2 separate regions of the Homo sapiens genome follow, and region 1 is linked to region 2. A link means that fine-mapping ties the variant in region 2 to the expression of a gene that starts in the linked region. Tissue or cell type: lung. Region 2 holds a variant in brackets; the other region holds the start of a gene. All regions are shown on one strand. Distances are between the middles of the regions.

Evidence for each region. PIP is the estimated chance that this variant, and not a neighbour inherited with it, causes the effect.
Region 1: it holds the start of RTN4, and the variant in region 2 is fine-mapped to the expression of RTN4 in lung (GTEx, PIP 0.94).

What each region holds. Positions count from the first base shown.
Region 1 is chr2:55,042,331-55,057,966 of GRCh38, forward strand. RTN4 (reticulon 4) reads right to left here and starts at 8,121. Exons shown (of 9, transcript NM_020532.5): 1 at 7,415-8,121. The coding sequence starts at 7,970. RefSeq lists enhancers at 7,127-7,939, 7,902-7,951 and silencers at 7,442-7,561, 7,702-7,761.
Region 2 is chr2:55,090,499-55,106,134 of GRCh38, forward strand. It overlaps a transcript of RTN4 not described here. Among named protein-coding and RNA genes, the nearest start is that of RTN4, 48 kb to the left of the region's middle. The variant A/C (reference allele first, on the strand shown) is at 7,326.

The DNA of each region.
Region 1 (15,636 bases), 48 kb before region 2:
ATACAAGAGTGTTCACAGAAATAGTATTTGTAAGAGAAAAAACTAAGTATCAACCTAAATAACCATCAATAAGGGACTGATTAAATAAAATATGGTACATCCCCAGAGTCCTCTGCATCTATTTTTGTGGAAAATAAAGTGAAAAGGATATACATGTATAAATAAATATTTATCCACAGATTATCTCTAAACAGATACTCAAGAAACTACTAACAGAGGGTGGATCTACAGAAGACAATTTGTGGAAATCTGGGTAACAGGTAGAAAGAGTTACTTTTCTGTGTATTCTTGTAGTACTGTTTGGAATTGTTACCTTGTATACATAAATAAATAAATGCTTTCGTAAGATTTGGGATTTTTATTGAGAGAAGATATTATAGTAATTCTAGAACTATACAGAATATGAAGATCAGCATCTTTCTCATTCAACAAACTGAGTGCCTATCACATCTAAGGCACTGCAATGCAGACACAATGCATACAGTCCTTTTCCTCAAAGAAAAAGGTCACAGCACCTTTCCTCAAGGAGTACACTGTCTGGTGGAGGAAAGAAATCAGTAACCATACCATTACCTTATATAGAATGATATATACTATGAAGAGGTAAGAACAGAATATTATGGAAACACGTGATGAAAGCAACTTAAAAATCAATGATCATCATTCCAAGAAACATAAATATCAATAGCTTAAATATGAAATTATCAACTCCTCCTTTGGGGTTAAAAAGGATGATGATGGCATTAGTCTGAGAAAATCTTAGCATCAGTAAAGCTGGGTCTCATCATTTTGCATACCTATGTCCTGCACTAGCTATCCACAAAGGTCACATTCATTCAAACACTACTGAGAACTATGGTTTTACCATTACAGTTCCCATCCCTAGTGCTGTCATCCTCAGAAGAACCTGATCCCTTTAGAAACAGGAACAAAAAGTCTCAAAGAATGTACCATAAGTATAGTATATCTGCAACATTTACTTCTATTTATTTAAGGGTTCCAGGGAAGAATCAAGAAATAGCCATTCAGTTTATACTTTTATCCTGGGCTAGCAAAGTACCTTAAAAAGGAACCATTAAATTGAGGCTTTGAATCAAGTTATTCTAATAAGTTGCTTGAAGGTATATTATGAAAATAAATGGCGGGGCACAGTGGCTCACACCTGTAATTTCAACACTTTCAGAAGTCGAGGTGGGAGAACTGCTTGAGCCCAGGAGTTCAAGACCAACCTGGCCAACATAGTAAGACCCCATCTTTAAAAAAATAAAAATAAGGCTGGGAGCAGTGGCTCACACCTGTAATCCCAGAATTGTGGGACACCGAGGCAGGTGGGTCACCTGAGGTCAGGAGTTCAAGACCAGCCTGGCCAACATGGTGAAACCCCGTCTCTACTAAGAATACAAAAATTAGCCAGGTGTGGTGGCACATGCCTGTGGTCCCAGCTACTCGGGAGGCTGAGGCAGGAGAATTGCTGGAACCTAGGAGGTGGAGGTTGCAGTGAGCCAAGATTGCGCCACTGCACTCCAGCCTGGGCTACAGAGCAAGACTCCACCTCAAAAATAAAATAAAATAAAAATAAAAATAAAAATATATTTAGGCTGGGTGTGGTGGCTCACGCCTGTAAACCCAGCACTTCGAGAAGACTGCTTGACCTCAGGAATTTGAGCCCAGCCTGGGCAACATGGCGAAACCCTATCTGCACGAAAAACACAAAAATTAGCCGGGCGTGGTGGTACGTGCCTGTGGTCCCAGCTAGTTGGGAGGCTGAGGTGGCAGGATCACTTGAGCCCAGAAGATGAGGCTGCAGTGAGCCAAGACTGCACCACTATACTTTAGCCTGGGTGAAAGAGCAAGACCCTGTCTCCAAAATATAAATACATAAATATAAAAGTTTTTTTAAAAAATTTTAAAAATAGCCAGCATGGTGGTGTGCACCTGTAGTCTCAGCTACCTGGGGGGCTGAAGTGGGAGGACTGCTTAAGCCCAGGAGGTCAAGGGTATAGTGAGCCATAATCATGCCACTGCACTCCAGCCTGAGCGACAGAGTAAGACTCTGTCTCAAAAGAAACAAACAAACAAACAAACAAACAAAAAAACTTGCCAGGCATGGTGGCTCATGCCTGTAATCCCAGCACTTTGGGAGGTCCAGGCAGGAGGATTGCTTCAGGCCCCAAGTTTGAGACCAGCCTGGACAAAAGTGAGACCATTGTTTTTTGGTTTTTAGATTTTTAAAAAGAAAATAACTACACATAAAACAAAGCCAATTAATGGACAATAGGTAACATGCTCCTTTTCAGAAATGTTTTTATAACATGGCAAATCCTTTAAGTTTACAATAATATAGCACTAAAATAGCATGTTTTCTAAACACTATTCCATGCAGTTATTTATCAGTGGTTCCACATATACCCATCACTTCATTTTAAAAAGGATTTGAGAGAGTTTGCAAATCACTAAAAAAAAAAAAAAAAAAAAAAAAAGACCACAAATTTGACACTCAGTTGCCCAGGAACCAATCTGAAACATAATTCACCATATCCATGAGGAGTATACTACTTATTCCCAACTTTTAAAAATAAGAAATGGCTTAACCAGAAATTATTCAGAATCACAAAAATGAAAGTGGGGAATGGACAGGGCATGACTTTCTTGTGTTTAGAAGCATCCACTTCCTGGGAACTTGGACTTTATATTAAGAACTGATACCTAATATTTAAACCATATGTCACTCAAAATCTTAAAATTTCTAATACATGCTACTACGCCAATAAAAATGATCATATAATAAATGGCTTCATGATAGTAAAAACTAGTAATTTTTAAGCCCCAACCCATAATCTGTATTTATGAGCAATATTCAATTTTATACAAATTTTCATGGCAATTAAATTTTGGCAGTCTCTGAAACTGATTTAATAAGCACTAATATTCTTTTCTTTGTCTTTACATTCATGGTTTCCAAGTCCTATCAATTCGTCTTTCATACAGCCTCTTCGTAAACTAACTATAAAAACAGATTCACAGCCAATTAAAGAAAGCGTGCTTCTTATACTCTTATATTCCTCCCTTCTATTCCATTTTCACTGAATGAACAAATAATGAAATAGTTCAGGCCCTACTCATCTTTCTCAGAACTACTGTAATAGCTTTCTAAATAATTCATCTGCTTTTCCTTCCCACCTATCTTGAATATTGTCACCAATTTTCTAATACTGCTTTCACGGTGCCTTGCCTCAGTTCAAATAACCTTCAATGGCTGTCTTCCCAAAGCCAAAAGCTCTAATTCGAGAAGGGGTGAAAAACAATAACTTTAGAAACAACAATTAAAAAAAACAATTTTGGTTTCATAATATAAATTACCAAAAGCAAGGGCAACTGGATAGCAGAGCATGGATTAAAGTGGAATGATAAAATCCAAATTCCTTAATTTGGCATTCAGTATCTTTCAGAATCCAGATCTACATATTTTCGGTCTTAATTAACCTTGGTTTAGAACATGTCCAGAGACCAGTTCGAAGTCACCCTTAATTATGTTTGCACTGCTCTCAAATCGATTTCTAGCCAGAGTTTTCTGCGCATATCCTCAAAGCCTAACTTAACCAACCACTAAGCCAAGTATTTTCCCATGAAAAATGGCCCTCAAGTGAGAGGTTTTAGTCTCACTTCAGTTACTGCATTGCGATGGAGATGCTCTGGGCACAACAGCAAACAGTAAAATTACAACTTATTAACAGATGAAAATCAGGGCTTACTCATAAATAACGTAAACAGCAATGTTAAACAGACAAGTGTCAGTGATCTAGAAACCCTCTCTTCCAGGCAGGCTAGTCTATGCTTCTAACCCTGCTCTGCACATTTCTCACCTTTGTCTCACATCAGTCCTCTCAGTAGCCCTGAATCTTCCAAACTTATTTTAGTTCCAAAATCACAATATAATTATTTAATAAGCATATTTTTATTTTTTTAAAAAGCTAAACATTTTTACCATTGCCTGTTAGAGACCCCCAATGATCTGGGTGGGTAAGGCCACCTCTTCACTCTCCCACTAGTTTTTCTCACTAGTCTTACACTAGATTCTCAGACACAAAGAGCTCATTCCTGCCTCAGGGTTTTGCCCTGAAGTTGCTTGGAAATGTTTTCTCTCTGCAGCTCAAATCTCACCTTCTAAGCCTGTCTTAGTGTCACCTAACCTAAAAAAGCCCCCATAAATCCCCATCATTCTCTATGCCATTATCCTGTTTATTTTCCTCATAACACCACTATTCTGGGTTCTTTATTTATGTGCTTATTATCTGTACTCTCCCAAGGGGGAGCATGTGTCTTGCTTATTGCTATACCCTCAAAGCTTAGAATAGATCCTGTCTCTTGGTAGGTAATCAATAATGGGTTGAATTAATGAACAAACTCTTGAATGCATTAAGAAATCCAGACACATTGAAAATGGTTAACTATCCACAACCATAATCACAATGTTCTTACACTTACTAAAAAAACTAAAGTTTCCCAATAGGTATCATCAATATGGAATTAGGGAACTCTGTAGAACAGGCAATATTCTTTCCCCATTGCCTTCCAACCTCAGCATTCCAACACACAAGATTCCAAGAGAGTGCTGTCACCCCCTGAATCCCTAATGTTCAAAGACAGAACTATTTTCTTTGTTCCCATACCAATACAAGATTAGTATGCTTTTGTCAATCATTAAACTTCCTGTGGCCAGGCGCAGTGGCTCATGCCTGTAATCCCAACACTTTGGGAGGCCAAGGTGGGTGGATCACTGGAGGTCAGGAGTTCAAGACCACCAGCCTGGCCAACATGGTAAAATCCCGTCTCTACTAAAAATACAAAAATTAGCCAGGCGTGGTGGCAGGCGCCTGTAATCCCAGCTACTCGGGAGGCTGAGGCAGGAGAATCACTTGAACCTGGGAGGCGGAGGTTGCAGTGAGCCAAGATTGCGTCATTGCACTCCAGCCTGGTGACAAGGGGGAGACTATCTCAAAAAAAAAAAAAAAAAATTCCTGTTTAAAAATATATTTCATATTTTTCTCTTACCTCAGTTTCCCTCAAGTATGTCTTTTTCATAAAGAAAAAGGAAAAGATTGAGTTACTCCTCATCTTCTAAGACCTTTAATATGGCAATTAGTGTTTTGAGTAGTATGGGGGTGAGGAGTCCGTCAACATCAAAATATTACTAAAAAGCATCGCAATTGGCTTATTTTCCCCCATTATGGAGAAGTGAATTGAGAAAAAAAAAAATCAGACTGATTTTCTTTTAAGAAATGAATCACCTCTAACATCCTACAAGGCTATGAAGATTTCCAAGCAGGCAGTTACACTACTTGATTCTTGACCTTTTATACATAAAGGTCCTACTGCTAGTGGGACACTTTCTGTCCCCGAAGTAGCAAGTACTTATGAATGTATCTAATATTATGCATTCTCAATCTCTAACAAACGTGATTTTTTTCGCTTCCAAAATAATTTCCCAAGATGAAAACGGCAATAAAACAACGTGACTAATAATAACATACAATCAGGAACTTAGGTGAATGAAAGAACTTGAAAACTATTTTACAGACCATACATAGTCATGCCTCGCTGAACAGGGGGAACAGGATCTGAGAAATGTATTGTTAGGCAATTCTGTCGTTGTGCAAACCTCACAGTATACTTACAGAAACCTAGATGGTAGAGCCTACTACATACCTATATGTAGGCTATATGGTATAATCAATTGCTCCTAGGCTACTAACCTATACAGGATGTTACTGTAGGCAACTGTAACACAATGGTATTTGTGTAGTGTTTATCTAAACATACCTAAAATAACACTGTACAAAGGATTAAAAGATGGCACACGTGTGCAGGGCACTGGCCATGAACAGAGCTTGCCAGCCTGGAAGCTGCTGTGGACGTGAGTAGTGAGTGAATGTGAAGGCCTAGGACATTACCATGTACTACTGTACAACTTACAGACACTCTACGGTTAGGCTACACTAAATTTATCTTTAGATATATTTTTTCAATAATAAATCAACCTTAGCTTACTGTATCTTTTCTATTTTATAAACTTTTTGGCTCTTTTGTAATAACGTTTAACTTAAAACACAAACACATTTTAAAGCTATAGAAAAGAAATTTTATATTCTTATTCTATAAGCTTTTTTCTATTTTTTTTTTAACTTTTGTTAAAAACTAAGATACAAACGCATTACCCTAGGCCTACACAGGGTCAAGATCAAGACGTCGCTAGGCGGCAGGAATTTTTCAGCTCCATTACAACCTTATGGAGCCACCGTTGCAAATGCGGTCTGTCCTTGACCTAAACGTCGTTATGAGGCACGTGACCGTATTTTGATTCTGTAACCTAAAACATATCCTTCTGAAAAACAGTATTTCTAACCAATATATATGAAAATGTCTGTCTCAAAACATTTCTCTGTGTCTCATGGTAAATCTGCCACGAGTTCAATTAGCCAATTCCTGGCAAGGAATCCACAGGTTTTCCCTTCTTTAGGAATGTCAACCATTTTGCCTTTTATTTTTTTCTGTAAGATTCAATTATGATGCACTAAGAGGCTGGGCCAAGTCCACACTAACAGCAATTCCTCCGACCCTGCAGCTGAAACCCCGGCAGAACTACGCCCCCTCGAACACAATGCCTAGATCCCCTTTCCCTGGCTCGGTTTAGCTGGTGGGGAGCAGTCCACATCACACCCCGGGGAGCTGGGCGGTGGCAGGACTTTACCAGAACTCTCTCCTTCCCATTTCTCCACGCACCACACCACTGGAGGCGCTCTCCCTTCACTGCGGTTGGGTCAATGTGGACGTTTTCCACTCGGCCAGCTCCCCACGAGCACAGGAGGAGGGGGAGGGGAAGCGCAAAGGGGCCACCCACGCCAGCCAGGAGGTGAGGAGGGAGCCCGGGGCAGAATGCAGGCCAACAGACCCGCAGCAAAACTGCACCTTTTCCAAAGGAGCAACCCAGACGGGTAGACAAAAGCACCTCCTAAAAATATCTGGGTGCCAAGGCCTTTCCTTCCTCACCTCGAAGCCCAACCAACCCGATAAATCCACAACCCTGGCTCTCGGGTATATACCCGGCTCCTACTACGGGTGGGTGCCTAACTTCCGAGAATCCGTACGCTGGGCATCACACAGGGTGAAAGTGGGAGCCGGGAGCGGTGCACGTGTTCCCCGAAACCAAGACGGACAATAAGAACAAACCCGGGCTCCAAGGGCCGCCCCACCCTTCTCCCCGCGCTTCCAACCAGACGGGGCGCCATCGCCCCGAAGTCCGCAGACAAAGCGCCCTCGGGGCGGAGAGGAGGGACCAGCCCAAAGCATCTGGGGCTGCACACAAAAGAGGGAGGGGCGCGAGGGGCGGCGCGAAGCGAGAGGTCGCGGCACTCACCCACTGAGCCCGAGGAGCCCCTGCGCTTGGGCGCGGCCGGGGTGGAGGGGGGCGCGGCGGGAGCCGGGGCTGGCGGGGTCCACACGGGCTCTGCCTGGGGGCTCACGCTGGCCGGGGGAGGAGGGGGAGGCCGGGCCGGAGGCTCGTCGTCCTCAGGGAGCTTGGAGGGCGAGACTGCGGCAGCAGACAGCGGGGATGGCGCGGGCACGGTCGACGACACCGGGCTCGGGTCCCAAGACGGCTGCCGCTCCGGGGCGACGGGGGGAGCGGCCGGCAGGGGTCCCCGGGGCGCCGGCGGCACGAAGTCATTTCCGAAGTCCATCAGGGGCGCGCCGGCGGCAGGGGCGGTGGGCACTGGGGCCGCGGACAGCCCGGCGGCGGGCTTCCTCTCCAGCACCTCCAGCTCCTCCAGGTCTTCGTCCTCGTCCTCCTCTTCCTCCTCCTCTTCTTCCTCCTCGTCCTCGGGCTCCCTCACGAACTGGTACTTGAACGCGGGCTGCGGCCGGGGTGGGCTGTCCGAGGACGAGACCAGAGGAGACTGGTCCAGGTCTTCCATGGCTGGAGGGTGGAGATGATGCTGCAGCTGCTGCCGCCGCCGCCGGGGCCGCGTCTCAGAGCCGCGGGCGGTTGTGGGGGTTGGGGAGGACTGAGAGGGGCTGGGCCGACTGAGCCGAGGGACCTACTGTGGTGACGGCTCCCGGAACAATGAGACTGCTCCTCCTGCCTCCGCGCCGGTGATGCGCCACCCGCCCTGTCCCCACTTGCCGCCGCCGCCCAGATGAGCTAGGAGTGAGGCCAGCGGACTCTCCGCCCAGTTTGGCGTGACTCACCCTCCCCAGGGGAGGGCAGGGACTGGCGCGGGAGGGAGAGAGCCAATCGGCTACAGGATCGAGAAGATAGGCGACCAGCCGGGCCAACAGAAAGGGAAGGAGATGAAAGTGGGTGGGGACTACGGCACTTCCTCTCTCTTACCGGCTGGGATTGCGTTCAATGGGCGGGGCTGAGAGCTGGGAGCTCCACCCCCACTTTGGGTAACCGTGAGTTGGGGTGGGGTCTTGGCCTTGCCCGCAGCTGGCGTCCGTATGTCGTTAGAGCACTGGGAAAGGGGGCGGGCTGCTGGCTGGGAGGGGTCGGCGCGGTTTCTGGCGCGCCACCGGAAGGGCGTTATCCTGGGGGAACTGAGAGTGGAAACTTTCCTCCCGGGAAAGGAAGAAACCCGACTGGAGAAAGGTATTAGCGGGACTGGGAAGTGGGCCCTAAGGATTTTTAAAGATTTTTGAAATAAAAGATTATTTGTTCACTCAAAGTTCCAAACTACATCACTACTACTACCACCCTAAAATAAGAAAAAAATTGTTTTTTGACAGTTAGGCTCACTCAGTCTAAACCGCAGCCCCCGAAATTGGGAGGAAAACAGCTGTGCTGAATTAACTAGGGATCTGGGGCCGACCATTTGAAAGTCTGCTCTTCTTCCAAAGAGAGTTTGGGGCCTTGCCTGCTGGACTCTTACATGGTAAGAGAGTGAGTCACCCAAAGAGAGAGGCAGCGGGGAGACAGGAAAGTGGAAATACAAAGATGCCTTGGAAAGCTAATTTGGTTCACGTTACATTTCAGTCACCTTAGGTTCATGAGTCAACATTTCGGATGATTCAGGCTTTCTGGGAGTCAGGAAGCCCCATAGTCATTGGTTTGATATGCAGGAATAAGCATGATCCCCATTCCACTTTTTATGAGGCTGGAGAGTTTAAAGAGAGTAGTTGCAGAACATCTTTGTAAGAATCAGGATCCTTTTATCTTTCTGATTTACCTTTCAAAAATATTCACTGCATGCCTACTCTGGAGGCCCTGGAGAGAAGAGGATAACCTGCTTTCAAGTTGCTCAAAGTCTAAATCTGTGCTGTACCTGACAGGTACTGGCTACTTGTGGCTACTGATTGAACACTCGGAATGTATGTAGCTAGGCTGAAATTAGATGTGCTGTAAGTGTAAAATGCGCACTGGATTTCAAGAATTAGTACCTCCGAAATGTAAAATATCTCAGCTTTCCTGTTGACTGAATGTTGAAATTGATATTTTGGATATATTGGGATAAGTATAATATTATTAAATTAATTTTACTTGTTCCTTTTAAAGCAGCTTCTAGAGTTTTTTAAATACATAATGGCTCACATTATATTTCTTTTGGACAGTGCTAGTCTAGATTAATAATTAAGAAAGTTTGATTGCCATGGGGAATCACTGGCAAATTCTTAGCTCCAACTAATTTATATTACTGTGGCTTAATTTGGGTATTAAAAAAGAAAAGTAAGAGTTGGAGGGAGGGATAAATAGGTGGAACACAGAAGATTTTGGGGGCAGTGAAACTGTTCTGTATTATCCTGTAATGGTGGATACATAACATTATGCATTTGACAAAACCCACAGGACTATACAACAGAAAGAGTGAACCCTAATGTAGACTATTGACTTTAGTTAATGATATATCAATATCAGTTCATCAGTTGTAACAAATGTACCACCTCAATGCGTTATGTTAATAATAATAGAGGAAACTGTGGTTAGGGGGCAGGAGTGAGAGTGTATGGGAACTCTGTACTTCCTGTTCAACTTTTCTGTAAACCTAAAACTGCTCTAAGAAATAAAGTTTATGAACCTTTAAAAAAGGAAAAGAATAAAGATTTCCTGGCAATGTTACTTGATTGGGTTAATTATCAACAATATATTCAAGACCTATCACATTAATTCCACGGAGAACTGGCTTTATTTGTGCAAAACGTTTGTGACTTGCTTTGAGTTTGGTGTTATTTTTTGGAGGGGTTGGGAAGAGTAGGAAGAGAGATGTATTGATGTAGAATTTTGGGGCGGGAAGTTAATGCCAAATGAATTTAAACAAAACAAATTTCTACAATGGTGACTACAAGAGACATATTTGAAGTCTTTGTCAAATATTTATCAAAAATTATAAAAAATTTGCCTGATTTTCAACCAATTGCATAAACATACAAAAATATACTAACAGTATTTTATGATACGACCTTTTCTATTGTCACAGTTTAGCTATCAGCAGTCTTCCCCGCATGCTTTTCCCACTATGACTGTTCTGAAATTCCTTAATGATAAGTTTCACAGGGCCTTTATGTATGTCTAATATAAACAGGACTTACGTTATTTGCAAGTTGTTTATATGATATTTCTGCATTCATATATCCCTGTACCTACTACTACTAAAATAGTCTCAAAGGAGTATCTTTAATCAAAGTTTCACAAAAGAATAATTATAAATAGTAGATTTACAATTTTAATAGGAAATAGCAGTTAATATTGATGCAATAATATAAGCACTATCTGGTGCAGAATAAAAATAAATTTTATTAATCTCAGTGACTTCTAAAAAAATAAGTATTTGATAGATAGATGAGTAAAGAGTTTGCCCAGCTTTCATAGAATGATCAACAAAGCAAAAAGAAAGGAGGCTGTTGCTGCTCTACCACAATTAAAAGTAAAGCTAGTTATACATTGTTGTAACTAGATGTAAATATCACTATCACTAACAAAATTCTGGTGGACATTTGAACCAGTTAAAAGAAAAATGCACATTCTAGATACTAATAATAGTTTTAAAATAATTATTCAATAATTTATATTTGAAAATAGCTTATCAGACGGGCACCGTGACTCATGCCTATAATCCCCGCACTTTGGGTGGCTGAGGCGGGTAGATCTCTTGAGGTCAGGAGTTTGAGACCAGCCTGGCCAACATGGTGAAACCCCATCTCTACTAAAAATACCAAATTAGCAGGGCATGGTGGTGCACACCTGTAACCCCAGCTACTTGGGAGGCTGAGGCAGGAGAATTGCTTGGACCTGAGAGGCAGGGGTTGCAGTGAGCCAAGATCATGCCATTGCACTACAGCCTGGGTGAAAAGAGCGAAACTCCATCTCAAAAAAAAACAAAAAAAAAAAGAAACAAAGAAAAGAAAATACCTCATCAGAAGTAGAAGATTAAAGTTTTCAGATACCACTGGTTAGTAGCTGTTCTCTCTGAGAACACTACAAGAGATCCAGCCTGCTAGAATCATAGAATCTTAGGGTTGGGAGAACTTTGGGAGGTCAGCTTAACCAATCTCTCTTCCATTATCATGGTCTCACTTATAAGCAAGAGCTAAATAAAGTGTACATATGGACATAGAGTTTGGAATGATAGTGGAGACTCAGAAGACTGGAGAGAAGGAGAAGGGATGATGAGAAATTCCTTATTGGTACAATGTACATTATTAGGGTGATGGATACACTAAAAGGGTGACCACTATGCAATCAATACATGCAAAAAAATTACACTTGTACCCATAAATTTATACAAATAAAAAATTTAAATAAAAAAATTCTTAAGAGTACCAAAATGATGTTTCAGTCTCTTTTAAATAGAAAGATTGAATGTAATTCAGAGGTGCTCTTGAACACAGGCCAGTCATTTTCAGTAGGTGAAAAAGCTGTGGTTGACTGCTCTTGAAACAGGTGTGTCTGTAATCCACCTCTCATCTTTCTTATCTTGCTTAACCATCCCTTTTGTGCTTTCACTTTATACTTTTTAATAAGAGAAATATTTGTTGGGTATACAGTCTGCACCAGGCCCTGCTCAAGACTTTGAAGAATACAGCACTACGCCAGACACAAACGTGCTTGCATGTTTTCAGTAAGAGACCTATTACTTGGGGAAATCACCCCTTCCATTTCTATAGTATTATACCTTATTTGCAGAATGCTAAATTGACACCTAAACTGGTATTTGTAGAACAAGTTAATTGTCCTTGAATTATGTATGCCCCTCAAAAGAGTTAAAAGGCGTAGGATGGGTATACTCTTGCCTACATATAGCAGGACGTGAACACCAGAGTGGGTTCGGTAAGAGAAGAAAGATGAGAGGTGGATTGTAGAGAAACCTGTTTCAAGAGCAGTCAACCACAGCTTTTTCACCTCTGAAAATGACTTGCCTGTGTTCAGGAGCGCCACTGAATGACATCTGACCTTTCTATGTAAAAAAGACTGAAATATCATTTTGGCACCCTTAAGTGAAAAATTAACAGCGTGCTAAGTTGTTGTCCCTATCATTTTGCTGGGATTTTAGATTTTATGAAATGTACCATTTTGTGAAATGCAGTTCATGGTTCTGTTCAACATCTTAACATATTAAATCCATTCTGTAATAAGAATAGAAATATAAATGTAAGATCAACTTCTTCAGTCATGTTAGTTAAGCATTGACAGTTAGTGTTGGATCTAAAATAAAAATGTTAAGTCCCAAAAAGAAATCCCATAATAAGCAAGTGAAAGTCATAATTAAAACTGAACCAAATCTTTCTCCTTTAACTGTTTTCGGTCCCCTGCATTATTAGAAATTAGGCTATTTGAATATGCATTGTTTCCCTGGAGAAATTTATTTTGATCTAGCAAAAAAATTATTTCAGATACGAGAAAGTTAATTTTGATCTACTAGTACAAAACCAAGCAGAAGACATCCTATGCTGTCTTAGACAAATAAAAATGTGTCCTCATATGAAGAAAGAAGGCAGAAAAGAGTCCACAAAATTTAACAACTCATTCTAATATATAACTTATTATTTTTAATACTTAAAGGTTGAAGTGTAAGTTCTGTTATTTAATCTTCAATGGAGATAGATAGAAACCAAGTGGTCACTGTCTTTAAACATTGTTCATTGATTCAACTAAAACCAACTGACCTTGGCCGGGCGCGGTGGCTCACGCCTGTAATCCCAGCACTTTGGGAGGCCAAGGCAGGCGGATCACGAGGTCAGGAGATCAGGATGATCCTGGCTAACATGGTGAAACCCCGTCTCTACTAAAAATACAAAAAAAAATTAGCCAGGCGTGGTGGCGGGCGCCTGTAGTCCCAGCTACTCGGGAGGCTGAGGCAGGAGAATGGCGTGAACCTGGGAGGCAGCGCTTGCAGTGAGCAGAGATCGCGCCACTGCACTCCAGCCTGGGCAACAGAGCGAGACTCCGTCTCAAAAAAAAAAACAAAAAAAACAAAAACAAAAACCTACTGACCATCTAGGCTCTGGTGATAAATAATAGATAAAACACATTTCCTAATGTCAAAGAATGCATAGTCTAGTTTACATAAGAATGTATATCTATAAATATGTGTATATATAGATGTATACATGTATATACATATATGTAGATGATATAGATTTATGTATCTATATATACATATATGTGTTTGTGTGTGTGTGTGTGTGTATATATATATATATATCTGTACACACACAGTAGTTCCACTTAATCCATGCTTTCACTTTCCGTGGTCTTAGTTACCCTCAGTCAGCTGCAGTTCAAAAATATTAAAATGAAAACTCCAAAAATAAACAATTCATAAGTTTTAAATTGTGTTCTGTTCTGAGTAGCATGATGAAATCTCAAGCAGTCCCCTTCTGTCCCTCAAGGGAGGTGAATCATCCCTTTGTCCAGTGATCACACTATCTACGCTCCCTGCCCTCCCCTCGTGATAGTCACTTAGCAGCCATCCCTGGGATCAGATCGGCTGTCATGGTATCACAGTGCTGCATTCAGGTAACCCTTATTTTACGTAATAATGGCCCCAGAGTATGAGGGTAAGGACGCTGGCAATCTGGATATGCCAAAGAGAAGTCATAAAGTGCTTCCTTTACATGAAAAGGTGAGCCGGCTGTGGTGGCTCGTACCTGTAATTCCACACTTTGAGAGGCGAAGGTGGGCAAATCACTTGAGGTCAGGAGTTCGGGACCAGCTTGGGCAACATGGCGAACCTGATTTCTACAAAAAATACAAAAATTAGCTGGGCGTGATGGAGTGTGTCACCCAAACTGGGTGACAGAGCAAGACCCCATTTCAAAAAAAAAAAAGTCAGGTAGAAGTGAAACTTCTCTGGATATCCTCTTTCTGTAGTTTTGACCTTCAAATTATGTAACTGTATTGCCTATTTAAAAAGTATTTAATTTAGAAATTATTGTTGAAATAAGTTCCCAATATAGTGATTATGTGTTCTGCATCACAACTCAGGATGCCCACTCTGTTTATTAAAGCAGAGTAAAAAACACAGGTCGGAATTTTAAAACTCAGGCCTATGTAACAAAGCCAGAAATTTTACAATGGAGAATCAGAGGTTATGCAATAAGATATAATTCCTAGGTTTAGGTAGTAGGCTTGATCTCAAAATAAGGCTTGTTATCCAGAAAGTAACCCAACCCCCTTCATAGACCTCTTTGGGATGCTTTGAAAACTTCTGACCCCAGAAAAAATGCACAAACACAAAACATAATTTTTCAATGGTTCATGCATGTTTCAAAGCCCATCCATGGATGTCAATAAATTTAGCTGCCAATACATTTACATTGCTCTCCTATTTAACTGGAGATGAATTTACATACCTGAAACAACTAAATAACCATACAGTGGTATTAAATATCTGCATAGCTTAGCAAGAAAGCCAAATAGGGAAGAAATCAGTGGGTCTGATATGATGTATGCGGATTTTTTGGAGGAGCTGAGAAATGACCTCACTCTCAAAATAGTAGGATTCGGAGGCATAGAAGGTACAGAAAATAGAGCATAGGCATTTGAGAAGAGAGCAAAGTATATATGGGAACCATAGGACACAGGTCTAATTGAAGTAAGGATTTGTGTTAGCAAATTGTATAAGGAAAGCACCTAGCACAGAGTCAGGCACTTGGGTACTCAATCAATAGTAATTATTATTATTATTGCTACTATTAGAGCAGAATAAGGTCACATAGCTAAGGTGAAGCCATGTTCTAAAGGACCTTGAAAGTCACAAAAGCAATTAAGACTTGATAAGTCACTCTATTTTTGAGCAGAAGAACTTGATTGAGCAAACTATTTGGAACATGTGAAGAATGCGTTTGAGAAAGCGAAAAGAGGATGGGTACTAAGAGTAGTTCACCCAGGCCTGGTGGTTCACGCCTATAATCCCAGCACCTAGGGAGGCCAAAGCAGAGGCTTGCTTGAGGCCAGTAGTTTGAGAACAGCCTGGGCAACATAGCAAAAACCTATCTCTACAAAAAATAAAAAATTAGCTGGGTGTGATTGTGCATGCATGTGGTTCTAGCTACTTGGGAGGCTAAGACGGGAGGATCGCTTGAGCCAAGGAGGTCAAGGTTACAGTAAGGCATGATTGTACCATTGCCCTCCAGCTTGGGCAACAG
Region 2 (15,636 bases):
GAGCCAATTCAACCAAAGCAGAAGCTGGAGCTACAGAAGGCAATGAGAATGAAGTCTCCACCTCCCCTCTATCCACCTGGAAGTTTCGCCAAAATCATCTCAAGAGCTTGAGAATTCCATGAAATATGGAGTAGGGCTTTGGACCCATTCTAAAGGACAAGGAGGACTACAGCTGATGGTTCCCAAAGACCTGTCTTCCGCACTGACCCAGGGTCCAATTGCTCATACAATTTCTCCTCTTAGATATCTAATAAGTAACTCCCATTTAAAATGGCCAAAAACCAAACTCGGCTCCACCCCCTAAACATGCTTCTCCCTCAGTCTTTTCCACCTCAGTTACCAGCCCCACATCCACTCAGTTGCTCAAGCCCCAAATCTACGAGTCATCCTTGGTTCTGCTTTCTCTCATTCTCTCTATCCAGGAGATCAGCAGGCCTTGTCAGTCCCTCCTCCAAGACACATCCCAAGTTGACATTTTTCAACTTCTCTGCACATCTCCATTGATTCCACCCAAGAAGTCTCAGCCACCAGTCCTCAACTGAACTCCCAGTTTTGCTCAACTGGCTAGAGCAAAAACCTCCCTAACCAGTTGCCCTGTCTTTCCTCTGGCCACCAGTGGCCTTTTCACTACCTGGTGGTAGCAGCCAGAAAGGGGTGTGTCTGTGTATAAATCGGACAGTATGGCTCCACCATTTACAATCATTCATGGCTTCCCATTGCAATCCAAATTCCTCTCTGTGGCCTAGGGGGCCCCACGTGATTGGGCCGTGTTTACCACTCTGACCTCTTTCTTCCTCCATTCATAGGGTGTCATCCACACTGGGCCCTTTCTTCCCACATACACATAAAGCTTCTTGCCTCAGAGCCTCCGTACATGCTATTTTTCTGCCTGGAATGCTTTTCCCTTAAATTTTCACCTGTCTGCCCCAATCCCTAAACTTCTAGCCCCTGCTCACTCTCTACCCTTTATCTTATTTTCCTGTAACACTTACTTGTTGCTTGATTACAAATTTTTCATCTTCCTGTCCTCATTAGAATGTAAGCTCAGGCCAGCTGCAGTAGCTTGTACCTAGAATCCCAGTACTGTGGGAGGCCGAGGCAGGAGGATTGCTTGAGCCCAGGAGTTTGGGACCTGCCTGGGCAATATAGCAGGATACTGTCTCTCCAAAAAGAAAACTTTTTTTAATTAGCCAGTGTATTAGTCTGTTTTCATGCTGCTGATAAAGACATACCCAAAACTAGGAAGAAAAAGAGGTTTAGTTGGACTTACAGTTCCACATGGCTGGGGAGGCCTCAGAATCATGGCAGGAGGTAAAAGGCATTTCTTACATGGCAGCGGCAAGAGAAAAATAAAAAAGATGCAAAAGCGGAAACCCCTGATAAATCCATCAGCTCTCGTGAGACTTACTCACTATCACGAGAACAGCACAGGCAAGACTGGCCCCCATGATTCAATTACCTCCCCCTGGGTCCCTCCCACAACATGTGGGAATTCTGGGAGACACAATTCAAGTTGAGATTTGGGTGGGGACACAGCCAAACCATGCCAGGCTTGGTGGCACATGCCTGTAGTCTCAGCTACCTGGGAGGTTGAGGTGGGAAGATTGCTTGAGTCCAGGAGTTTGAGGCTGCAGTGAGCTGAGATGGCACCACTGCACTCCAGCCTGGGTGACAGAGTGAGACCATGACTTAAAAAAAAAAAAGGAAGCTCAATGAAGGGAGAGATTTTTTTTTCTTTTCTTTTTTTTTTTTTCGAGTTGGAGTTTCCCTCTTGTTGCCCAGGCTGGAGTGTAATGGCATGATCTCAGCTCACCGTAACCTCCACCTCCTGGGTTCAAGCAATTCTCCTGCCTCAGCCTCCCTAGTAGCTGGGATTACAGGCATTCACCACCACCCCTGGCTAATTTTGTATTTTTAGTAGAGACAGGGTTTCTCCATGTTGTCAGCCTGGTCTCAAACTCCCAACCTCAGGTGATCTGCCCACCTCGGCCTCCTAAAGTGCTGGGATTACAGGCGTGAGCCACCGTGCCCGGCCCGAAGGAAGAGATTTTTTATCTCCAGCTCCTAGAACACTACCTGGCAGAAAAAAGTGCTCAACACAAACTTGTGGAATGAGTATACCTGAGTTTCACTTGTTTCCTGCTTGCCCTCTGTCAGAGGCCACACCCAATTGTGGCACCTGGTAAAAGCCTCACTCATTAGAGTTTTGTCATTTAACTCCTTCCTGTAAGCCAGGTAAAACTGACCACATATATATGTAGATGCCCTTTTCCAATTTCAGTTTGGGGGCTCCCCTGGAGAAAGCAGAGGCCTCACACTAGAGCTAGAAGCGGCCCCAGGAAAATTCACATGGGGTGAAGTTTTATTCTTTCAAAGTAGCCAGTTTTGCCCCTTCGCATTTTCTTCTTCTTCACAGACATTTTCCCAATGGGTAAAACTTTTTTGTTTGATTTTAAAAATTCACTTTTTCACTTATCTATTCAGTGTTGCTTACTGAGTTCTGACCACTAATAAAAATAACCATTGTGTGTGTGTCTATGTGTGTGTGTACGTGTGTAAAATATCAGAAGATAAGAGCCTTGCATTGTTCTAAGAGCTGCTTGAAAATGTCTGTGTTTTGATAGCTTATGATGCACATTCGTGGGCCAGCCAATTATAGTGACAGCTCTTTAATGAAGAAATGTCATACACATTAATATAGAATTTGTATTTGCTCTTAGTAATACCTGTAAGTGCCTAGTTCAACAGTTTTTGTGGTTGAAATGCTAAAAAATACAACTGAAATGCTGTTGAACTCTAAATGGCTAAATGCATGTATACCTGTATGTTGTTTTATTTACAAACACATAAACATATGTGTGTATTTTATACTTAAATAATTTATTCTATATATATTTAATTTATTTTATATATATATAGAATAAATTAAGCAATAATGTCCCTGGGCCCAAAGAAAGTATTCTTCATTCTCCTGTTACGCCAGAAAGGTGTTTATTATGCTGAGGGAAGTTCTTGCACTCATAACCTCTAAGTGATTCCGCAGCATAGCTTAGAGGTGATGCTTCTTCCGGAGGAAGCCCTGAGTCATTATCTGCATCTTTCCTGAGATCTGGAGAGTACAAGGGTACCAACACCTCTCCCTCCACGAGGCCAGGGGGGATTAGGAAAGAGTCAGAGATGAAGGAGAAAAGGAGAAGAGAAATTGGTAAGAGGAAAAAGGGTAAATGTCTCAATTGTTTCCTCCTCTGATTACAGCCAGAGGAAGGCAGTCTGAGGGCCCCTTAACTAACTCCCTGTTAAGGTCTGGCAAGGATATAATGCATTTCATTTAGCTATGCTTCTGTTACTTGAATGGTTTGCTTTTTCTAAGGGAAATAGAATTGGGAAAGGAATTATAAGGAAGAGAATTTTCTTGCTTTTATTCTATTTATAAATGGAATATGAGAGGGACATGGAAATAGCATGAAAGAGTCACAATTTTCTTACGATCACTAATATCCTACACTAATGTATCTGGGTGGCAGAGCGGATGGAGCCATAATGGTGTTTGTTATGGACTGAATCATGTTCCCCCAAGATTCATATGTTAAAGCTGCACCCTCAGTGTGATGGTATTAGGATGTGGAGCCTTTGGGGGGTAATTAGATTTAGATGAGGCCCTGAGAGTAGAGTCCCCATGATGGGATTAGTGCCTTCTAAGGAGAGATCTCTCTCTCTCCACCACATGAGGACACAGTGAGAAGGCAGCTGTCTGCAAGCCAGGAAGAAAGCCCTCACCAGGAATCCATCAGCACCTGCATTTTGGGCTTTTCAGCCTCCAGAACTGTAGGAAATACATGTTTGTTGTTGAAGTCACCCAGGCTGTGCTATTTTGTGACAGTCGCCAAGCTGACAAAGAGAGTGTTTTACATGAATTAATTAAGCAGATAATTCCTGAGCATCACTAGCACTCTGGGTACTGTTGCGCAGTGAAGTATAGAGCAGTGACCAATCAGGTGAGCTTCTGCTTTCATGGGACTTCAGTTTGAGTGGGAAAATACGCCACATACCATAAACAAGTAAACAGACAAGTAAATATTAGATAGTGATAAGAGCCATGAACAAAACACAACAGAGCCATGCTATGTGGAGTGACTGGGGAGGGGCTACTTTAGATCAGGTCATCAAAGGAGGCTTTCTGGGCAGGGGACATTTGAGATGAATGACAAGGAAGAGCTGACTAGGAGACAATCTGGTGGAAAACGTTTGAGGCACAAGGAACCATGGTGCTAACATCAGGTCTATGTAAGACTGACAGTTACCCCTGAGTTAGGTCAAGCAAAGAATGAAGTGGACTTGAGACAGGCTTGAGTGTTAATACCCAAAAGTGAAAGCAAGAGATGCACAGCAAGAAATTCATATAAGAAACTTCAGATTTTGAATACCAATGAAATAACCATGGTTTCCGAGTGACCTCCTACTCCACACAAGTCCTCCTCTTGTATTTCCCGTATTATCGCCATACTCCATCCACACAACATGCAATATCCAAATACCATAATAAGGCTGGGCGCGGTGGCTCACACCTGTAATCGCAGCACTTGGAAGGCCGAGGCAGGTGGATCACCTGACTTCAGGAGTTCGAGATCAGCCTGGCCAAAATGGTGAAACCCCGTCTGTACTTAAAATACAAAAATCAGCTGGGCAGTAGAGGCATGTGCCTGTAATCCTGGCTACTTGGGAGGCTGAGGCAGGAGAATCGCTTGAACCTGGCAGGCGGAAATTGCAGTGAGCCGAGATCGTGCCACTGCACTCTAGTCTGGGCGACAGAGTGAGATCCTGTCTCAAAAAAAAAAACACAGACAAAAAAACCCAAATATTATTATGAGGTTAATCACATCATCATCTACCTTCAATTAATTTTTGTAAAATAATTTTAAAAATTAACATCTTATATTTGTGAGGTCCATTTGTTATAATTGATGAACCAACCAATGTTGATACATTATTAATTGAAGTCCACACTATTCAGATTTTTTTCTTTTCTTTCAGTGAAACCCTGTCTTACTTTGCTGCCCAGGCTGGAGTATAAGTGGCTTAATGAGGGCTCACTGTAGCCTTGACCTCCCAGGGTCAAGTGGTCCTCCCACCTCGGCACTCCCTATCTCCCTGCCCCTGACTCCCCTAAATAGCTGGGACTATAGGCACTCGCCACCACACCTGGCTAATTTTTAAATTTTTTTTGTAGAGATGGGGATCTCACTATGTTGCCCAAGCTCTATGCAGATTTCAAATGCCCTTTTCCTGTTAGGATCCCATCCAGGATACCACATTGCATTTAGTCATGCTTTCTTAGGCTACTTTTGGCTCTAACAGTTTCCTAGACTTTCCCTGTTTTTGCTACCTTTGACAGTTTTGAGCAGGGACTGATCAGGCAATTTGTAGAATGTCCCTCACTTGGGATTTATCTGATGCTTTTCTCCTAATGGGACAGTGGTTATGGGTTATTGGGAGAGAGACTACAGAGGTAAAGTACCATTTTCATCCCACCATATAAGAGCGCATGCTGGGCCGGGTATGGTGGCTCACGCCTGTTCCTAGCACTTTGGGAGGCCGAGGCGGGTGGATTACCTGAGGACGGGAGTTCAAGCCCAACCTAACCAACATGGAGAAACCCCGTCTCTACTAAAAATACAAAATTAGCTGGGCGTGGTGGCGCATGCCTGTAATCCCAGGTACTCAGGAGGCTGAGGCAGGAGAATCGCTTGAACCCGGGAGGCGGAGGTTGCTGTGAGCCAATATCACACCATTGCACTCCAGCCTGGGCAACAAGAGCAAAACTCTGCCTCAAAAAAAAAAAAAGAGTGCATGCTACCACCAGGACTTATCACTGCTGATGCTGACCTTGATCTCTTGGCTGAGCTTCCAAGTGATTTTTGATTCCTCATTCTCCCATCCCTGGAATCTATCATTCATCAGGCCTCATCTAATATATCTCTCAAGGTTCTCTCCCAGAACCCACTCCTCATCAGCATTATCTCCACAGTCTCAAGTCTAAGTTCCCAGACTGTTCTCAGCATCCTGCACCACGTTATCAAAGCTCTAATCATAGCCTTTCTCTGGCTAAATAATCCCACTTAGGAATAAAACTTTTGTCTTAGTTGGAAGTTAAGGTCCAAGGTTTTCAGTGTTGCTTTGGGGTCTTTTTCTCAATCTGAACGCAAGCTACTTTCCAGTTTTGGCTCCTGCCCTGAGATCTGGGTGCCATGCTAGCACTCCACCACACCCTCTGCTCATTCTGTCATGCTGCAGCAGTTACTGTTTATTAAGCTTCTGTCCTGTGCCAGGCAGCTTTCTGGGCCCAGGAATACAAAAAATACGAAGAAAGGCTTCCCTACACTCAAGGAATGAGGTGTAGTTGGAGTGACAGTCATTGTAAATGGATAATTGCAAGGTTGTTAGGTAGATGCGAGGTATTTATTTGGGCATGTACAAATTTTAAAGGGAGCAACTAGGCCAAAGCCCCTCACTGTGGCCCCAGTACTTAGGGGAGATTATACTAAGATAGTGATATCTGAGCAATGATTTCAATAAAGAAAAAAGTTCACCAAGCAGACAAGAGGCCAAGAGAAGTTCTAGGCAGAGGGCACAGCACGAACTAAGGCATGGCCACTAAGCAATTTAATATGGAAGTATTTGCAAAAGATGAGTAAGAGCTAAATTGTGATAAAGGAGGATTGCTTGAGCCCAGGAGGTCAGGGCTGCAATGAGCCCTGATTGTGCCACTGCACTCCAGCCTGGATGACAGAGTGAAATTCTGTCTCAAAAAAAAAAAAAAAAAATTCCTTGGCCTCAGTCCAGACTCAGAATCAGAATTTCTGGGGTTGGGGGGAAAGCCTGGTAATTCTGCATTTGTAATCAAACCCCAGGTACTTCTTGTAAAGAAAGCTTTGGAACACTGGTACTCTAAGAGAATAATAGAAAACAAGATCAAAACAAGAAGAAACTGGAGGCAGAAAGAGCAGTTGGAAGACACTTGCTATTGCCCCAGAGATGGCAAAGCTTGAACCAAGGAGACAGCAGTGGGGGAAGGAGGAGGGGCAGCTTCAGGAGGCCTCGAAGAGGCAGACTGTCAGAGGTAGAGCTGCAGACGCCACCCAGGCCTCTAAGGATTCTATCTTGAACACTTTCATAAACATTGGGAATATGAGAGACGGAATAGGTTGCTGGGAAAGATAATGAGCTCAGTTTTGGAACATGTTGACTTTGAAGTGAAATCCATAATGAAGAGCTGACACTTGAACAGGCTGTTCTGGAACTCAGGATAGAGGTCAGGGCTGGAGATA[A/C]GGATTTCTGAATCATTTGAATCACCAGTGTATAGGCAAGAGCAGGAAAAGTGAAATTCCCCCAGGAAGCAGGTGGAGTCTGAAGGGCCAAGAATGACATATGGAAGCCTTCAGCACTCCCGCCCCTCCTCATCAACCTTCAGCCTCATCTTTCTCCTCTGTGCCCTTCCCCCAATCTCTTTTTCTACCTCACACAATTTTATCAAAGGCCATCTCCCAGCTGTTACTATCCTAGATGGAATTAACCTCTGCACTGTGCTACGGTATTTCTTTGTACTCCCTTTATCACATCTCCAGTCATTTTAGATTAGGGCTAGTGTTGTCCCATTTTCTTTTTCACCTGTTAGAGGCAGAAGTATGTCCGGATTTCCAGTACCCAGCACAAAGCTGGTGTTTAGTAAATGTTTGTGGTCTTGTGGTGGAGATTTAAGGATTATTCATTCATTTGGACTTATAATCCTAGTGTCTAAAGTAAAAATATCTTTCTTTGATCAGAAAGAGTGTATACTTTATGCAACCTAAAACTTAGGCACTTAATTTTTAAAAACATTTTATTATAATAATTTAAAACCATTATGTAGTAACAGAATAATAATAAACCTCCAAATACCCATCACCCAACTTCAATAATTATCAACGCAGGGTCAATTCTCTTTTATCTTTACTTCCAACTCCATTGCATATTATTTTGAAGCAAATGCCAGAGAACATATCTTATCAGTAAAAGAGAAGAGTTTTTTAAAACCATAATATTATCACACCCCAAAAAAATAACAATAATCTCTTAACATCAATATCGAGTCATTGTTCAAATGACCAATTTTCTCATAAATGCAATTTCTTTTAATTTTAAAAAATTAAGATCCAAATAAGGTCCACATGTTGCAATTCATCAATATGCCTTTTAAATCTCTTTTAATCTATAGGTTTCCCCCTGAACCCCCTTTCTTGCGAATTATTTATTGACGAAATCAGGTCATTTGTTCCGTAGAGTTTCTCATAGTCTAGTTTTTTGCTGCCTTCATTCCCCCAATGTAGTGCAACATGTTCCTCTGTCCTCTCTATTTTCTAAATTGGCATTTGGAACAAGAAACTTGGTAAGATTTGAATTTGCCTTTTTGGCAAGACTTCTTCATGAATGGGTGTATTCTTCCTTCATCCATCAGGAGGTCCGTACTGTTTGGTTGTCTGTATTCTTGTTACGTTAGCAATCACTTCTCCTTAAGGCCTAGATCTATTAGTTCTTTAGAGGCCATAGAAAGGGGACTCTATTACTCCTTTGTTGTTTAGTGGCTGAATTAGTTCTTTAAACAAGAACTTCACCTCATGCACTATTTAGTTACTGGGGCATACAGTTCATATAAGGAAGGCAGAAAAAAATGGTAGAATTTATTTACCGGTTATCAGTTCAATAATGAGTTGCCTCCCAATCATCTTCTAAACATGACCAGTTTTTTGAGCATCATTATGGACTCATAGATTTAAACATATTTGAGATGTTTCAATCTATTGCTGGTATTATCCCTACTGATGTCAAAACTGTGACACCTTTGGCCATTGGGAGCCTCTTTAAGTTGGTTCTGCTGTCCTTTTGAGAATGACCCTGTAGTCCTCAATAGCTTCCTCACTACCTATATGACAAAGTGCTTCAGGGATCCCTTGTTCATTTCCTGCCCTAGACCTTGACTCAGCCATTTCTTCAAGGAGCCTGGCTCTTTGACATGGGAAATGGTATTTCAGGACATCAATCAGGGATTTGGGGGTGCTCTTTGCACCTGGGTTGGCTAGAGACTGACTTTAAATTTTTGAATTTCTCAGACATACTAGTGGCTAAAAGTGCAGGTGCCAGAGGTAGACTGTCTGGGTTTGAATCACCACTCTGCCACATATTATGTATGTGACACGGTGCCAGTTTACCAACTTATCTGTGCTTCAGTTTTTCTCAATTGTGAAAAGAGAATAATAACAGTAGCTAAATATGTAGAATCCTGTAAAGTTTAAATGAAGCGATTCATGTAAAATGCTTAGAATAGGGCCTGGCACATAGGGCTGTGTAAGCATTGACTATTATTATTCTTATTACTAGTCTCTTTCCAGCCTCATCATTGTTGCCTGCTTACACTGTGGGTCAACTGATATGCAACATGGACTTACATTTTATTCATATCTAGTGACATGCTGACTTATTTTAGAGAACTAGTCTAAGTTACATCTGCAACATTTGTCCTACTAATCTGCTACTTTAAATGATGCAATACTTGCACATATTAGAACATTTCCTGTAAAGGAATCCAAATTCAACAAAACAAATGGCATTCATAAGGTCACCAAGCACCAGTGTACTTTCTGCTTTTTATACTTGTCTGGAAAGGGGTAAATTAGCAGAAGCCTGGCTAGGAGTGACCCCACTACGGAGTTAAGGTCTTACTTTGCACTGGGGGCTTGGACAAGCCACATTCGTCTTGTCTTTCCTAGTTGAACACAGGGAGCTATTGGGGTGGCATTCCCCAAGCCCTCCAGATCCCTTTCTAATCAAACTGGTAGAATTACAAGACATATCCCAGATCACATAAATCTTAATGCTGGTTCTGTCTGGAAGCCCATTCATATTATGAAATCTTGATCTATTCAGCCATTTGCCATAATTCTTTCGTCAGGTTCGAGGAGTTAAGATCTCAGCACTGCTGCAACTGAAGACAGTGAAAGGGAAGCAGCAGACCTGTGGGCTGTTTCCTTGGTGGTCCATTAGACCCCAACAAAGCCTCAAGGTACATCTTCTCTAAACCTAAAAACCCTACGGAGCTCTAACAAGAACAGTCTCTAAAGTAGTTAAATCAAAGTTTATTTAAAGCAAAGGCATTTGTTTATCTGCAATTTTATATACTTGCATTACTGACATATAATTGTGCTATCATTGCATCAGCCATGCCAAGTTTTCCACAGCTCACTGGCTAGAAATTCTCAGGATGCACTAGGGTTCATTTGTGCTTAAACAAAAATTTACTTGCTTGTTTTATTCTTTTCTTTCTTTTTTCTCTTGACAGCACTCTTAGCATTTTTTTTTTTTACTCTTACCATTTTATAAAAATAGCTGTCATTAGATTACTTGACACTTAAAACACTTTGGATTAAAATGTAATTTTAATCACATATTTGTCAAGAGGAAAGTGTGAATAAATAATGGTAAATTTATGTAATAGAAACTATTAAGCCACTAAAATTATAAAATGTATTTTGAAATCTTGACATAGAAACATGAGAGAACAAAAACAAGCTCCAAACAGTTTGTATAGTAGGATTATATTTTAGTAAAATAATAATTATTTTACATGTTGGCATATGCATAGAAAAAAATCTGAACAAACAAGTTGTTAATAGGGATTATCTCCAGGGGTGAGATTATCATTGTCTTTTCCTACATATTCCTATAGTTTCTGAATTTCTTATGAATACTTATTACTTTTCCAATCAGAAAATGTTTATTTTTTTGAAAATCAATGTTGTTGTAACTTGTTCAGAAGAGTGAAATAATACATTATCCATTGTAATAATAATTTTAGTGAGATTTCTCATGGTAGCTTCTCAGGAAATTCTATAATACTAATAAGTTTCTGTAAAAATTGAAGTTATTAATACAATAACTGAAGTATTGAAAAACAGTATACTTAGTCTTCTCAGAATCCAAAATGATTTGGTGTATATTTTTATATATATGCAAAACCAAATGGAATTTAAAACTTTGAAATCTTTAGAACAATCAACAAACCACTTTCATTCATTAAGCATGCATTTCTGCTACATAGTCTGTGCCAGGCAATGTGCTAGGTATGCAAGTACCAGCTACACAGAGATGAAAAAGATCAACCCAATTTCTGTCCTCATATGATGGTATGAACCAGCCCTGTGGATATCCTGGAGCATAGGAATTATTAATTAGAAGAACTGCTGCATGTGAATAAACAATAAGCAAATTAATTAATTTTGTATGTTAAAGTGAATTTTTCACTACATAAGAGCTAAGTGACTGGAAAGATTGTATATTTCATCAGCACATTCAAATTTCACAAAATCATCACACACTGTAGGATATATGTTCAAATATATTCACACCTCCAAATCAAATATAAAAGAAAAGGAAAAATAGAGTGAAATCTTATTATTGTTTTCTACTGATATTTCACTTTTAGATGTGACATCTGAAATCTAAGACAAAAAAAGGCTTCTGCTTTTATTTTGAATCATAAAGTTAACAAGTCCATTTTTAAAAATCATGAGCACCAAATTCCTTAAAGATGAGATATTGTTATTTCATAACTTTCCATCCAAATCATGCCTAAATCATTTTTCAGTTCTTTGGAGCAGATGACGATTAAGGGGGAAAGGGAAGGAGGGATCAAAATGTTCACTTAAATGGAATTTAGTTTGTTTTTGTAAGGCTGAAATCCCTTGAAGATGGTATATAAACTACTACTTTAGGCCAGGGGGTAGCAAACCTTTTCTGTGAAGGGCCAGATAGTAAATCTTTTAGGATTTGTGGACCATGGACCATGCTGTCTCTGCCAAAATGGCTCAACTCTGTTGTTTTACGGCAAAACAGCCATAAACTACACATAAACAAAGGGACATAGCTGTGTTTCAATAAAACTTTATTTGTGGACGCTAAAAATTTTAATGTTATATAATTTTCACATGTCATTTTTCTTTTGATTTTTTTTTAATCATTTAAGATGTGAAATTCGTCCTTAGTTGGCAGACCTCACAAGAATCTGGTGGCTGATTGGACTTGACACATGGCCAACTGCCAGTCCCTGCTAATAGGCCAGTGCATGGTGCTTGGGATCTGCTGCTTCTCTTTGGTCCTGGTATTGAAGGGTAGGAGGTAGGAGAGGAGAATCCAAGAGATTTATAAAACAAAACTCTATAGATTTTCTAAAAACAATTTGTAAGACAAAACTCTATTGTTTTTCTAAAGACAATTCAAATCTCTTTATTAATCTAAGAAGTTACTATCGTGGCCGGGTGCGGTGGCTCACGCCTGTAATCCCAGCACTTTGGGAGGCTGAGGCGGGCGGATCACCTGAGGTCGGGAGTTTGAGACCAGCCTGACCAATGTGGAGAAACCCCGTCTCTACTAAAATTACAAAATAAGCCGGGCATGGTGACACATGCCTGTAATCCCAGCTACTAGGGAGGCTGAGGCAGGAGAATCACTTGAACCCGGGAGGCGGAGGTTGCAGTGAGCTGAGATCACACCATTGCACTCCAGCAACAAGGGCAAAACTCCGGAAAAAAAAAAAAAAAAGGAAGTATATTTTTAAAAGTTTATAAAACATTTAAAGAAACAATGAGTTTTAAAAGGATGCACCTGGAGAACATTATGCTGAGTGACATAAACCAGAAACAGAAAGATACTGTATGATCTCACTTACATGTGGAACCTAAAAAAGTCGAACTCAGGGCAGAGAGTAGAATTGTGGTTACCAGAGACTTGGGAAAGGGAAAAATGGGGAGATGATGATTAAAGGGTACAAAGTTTCAGTTATGCAAGATAAATAAGTTCTGGAGACCTATTATATAGCATAGTGCCTATAGCTAACAATACTGTATTGTACACTTAAAATGTGTCCAAGAGGGTAGCTCTTATACTGAGTGTTCTTACCCATACACACACAAAAATTAATAATATTAATAATAAAGGGGCTGGGAGAAAACTTTAGGAGGTGATGAATATATTTATGGTCTTGATGGTAGTGATGGTTTTATGGGTATATACTTATCCTTAAACCCACAGAGCTGTGTACTTTATTTTTTTCCCTCTTTTTCTACGTCTCACAGAAGACTTCTATACAGTTGTATACTTTAAAAATGTGTAGCTTTTTTGTTGTTGTTGAAACGGAGTCTCGCTCTGTTGCCCAGAGTGGAGTGCAGTGGTGCAATCTCGGCTCACTGCAACCTCCACCTCCCGGGTTCAAACGATTCTCCTGCCCCAGTCTCCCAAGTAGCTAGAATTACAGGCTCCCACCACCACACCCGCCTAATTTTTGTATATTTAGCAGAGATGGGGTTTCACCATGTTGGCCAGGCTGGTCTCAAACTCCTGACCTCAGGTGATCCACCAACCTCGGCCTCCCGAAGTGCTGCAATTACAGGAATGAGCCACCGCACCTGGCCTATGTGTAGCTTTTTATATGTAAATTGTACCTCAATAAAGTGTTTTTTGTTCTTTTTATTCACTTATTTATTTTGAGATGGAATCTTGCTCTGTTGCCCAGTCTGGAGTGCAGTGGCACTAGCTGGGCTCACTGCAACCTCCACCTTCTGGGTTCAAGCGATTCTCCTGGGTCAGCCTCCCCAGCAGCTAAGATTACAGACACGCACCACCACACACGGCTAATCTTTTTTGCTTTTTTTTAAGTAGAGACAGGGTTTCACCATGTGGGCCAGGCTGGTCTCAAACTCCTGACCTCAAGTGATCCACCCACCTCGGCCTCCCAAAGCACTGGGATTACAGGCGTGAGCCACCATGCCTGGCTGTTTTTTAAATTTTTGAGACAAGTCTTGCTCTGTTGCCCAGGCTGGAGTGCAGCGTTGCGATCTCAGCTCACTGCAACCTCCGCCTCCTGGGTTCATGATTCTCGTGCTTCAGCCTCCCGAGTATCTGGGACTACAGGCGCATGCCACCACATCTGGCTAATTTTTGTATTCTTAATAGAGACAGGATTTCACCATGTTGACGAAGCTGGTCTCAAACTGATGGCCTCACGTGATCCACCTGCCTCAGCCTCCCAAAGTGCTGGGATTACAGGTGTGAGCCACCGTGCCTGGCCTTGTTTTTATTTTTTAAGGGCAGCTCTGAATGAAGAGACATCCATTCCTTCCTATTTTTCTTGCTGAGCATTGGGAAATAATAATTTTTTTAAAAAAAGAAACTTCCTAGATTAATAATGAGAAGTAGTATCTGTTTATTGTTTTGTTTTAGTTTTTTGTTATATATGTCTTTTGAAACAGAGTCTCATTCTGTCGCCCAGGCTGGAGTGCAGTGGTGCGATCTTGGTTCACTGCAACCTCAACCTCTCGGGCTCAAGCGATCTCCCCACCTCAGCCTCTCAAATAGCTGAGACCACAGGAGCATACCACTACGCCAGGCTAATTTTTATATTTTTTGTAGAGATGAGGTTTTGCCATGTTGCCCGGGCTGGTCTCAAACTCCTGAGCTCAAGCAATCCACTCACCATGTCCTCCCAAAACGCTGGGATTATAGGCGTGAGCCACCTGGCCCTGCTCATTGTTTTCATTAGCATTTCTTTGATTACTACTTATGTGAACTTTTTCACATTTTTAGGCCTTCCATATTTCTTTTTTGTGAATTACTCATTGCCTTCCCCCCTTTTTTTGCTATTGAAGTTTTTTTTTTTTTTTTTTTTGAGACAGAGTCTCACTCTGTCACCCAAGCTGGAGTACAGTGGCACGATCTTGGCTCACTGCAACCTCCACCTCCCAGGTTCAAGCAGTTCTCCTGCCTCAGCCTCCTGAGTAGCTGGGATTACAGGCATTTGCCACCACACCCGGCTAATTTTTGTATTTTTAGTAGAGATGGGTTTTCGCCATGTTGGCCATGCTGGTCTCAAACTCCTGATCTCAAGTGATCTGCCCACTTCAGCTTCCCAAAGTTGTGGGATTACAGGCATGAGCCACCATGCTGGCTGAGATTGTTTTTCTAATTTATTTTACGCAAGCTCTGTATATTGTTACTGACCCTTTATCTATTATTAAGTAATAAATATTTCCCCATTCTCCCTTGCTGTTTTATTTTGTGGAGTGTGTTTATGATAGGTAATCTTATTGTAGTCAAAAGCAATCTTTTCTGCTGAGTGTGGTGGCTCATGCCTAATCCCAGAACTTTGGGAGGGGAAGGAAGCAGGAGAAACACTTGTGACCAGGGATACAAGACCAACCTGGGCAACATAGAGAGACACCCCGCCCCAGACTCCACAAAAAATTTAAAAGTTAGCCAAGTACAGTGGCACATGTCTGTAGTCCTAACTACTCTGGAGGCTGAGGCCAGAGGATCGCTTGCACCCAGGAGTTCGAGGCTACAGTGAGCTATTATCATGCCACTGCAAGCCAGCCTGGGTGACAGGAGGAGACCCCCATCTCTAAAATAAATTTTTTAAGCAATCTTTTATTTTGTATCTTATTTCTTTTCTCTTATGCTTAAAATATACTTCACCTTTTCAAAAGCACATATTCAATTATATGTTCTACTATTTGGGGGGTTGTACTTTTTAATATCATACTGTTGAGATTTGGT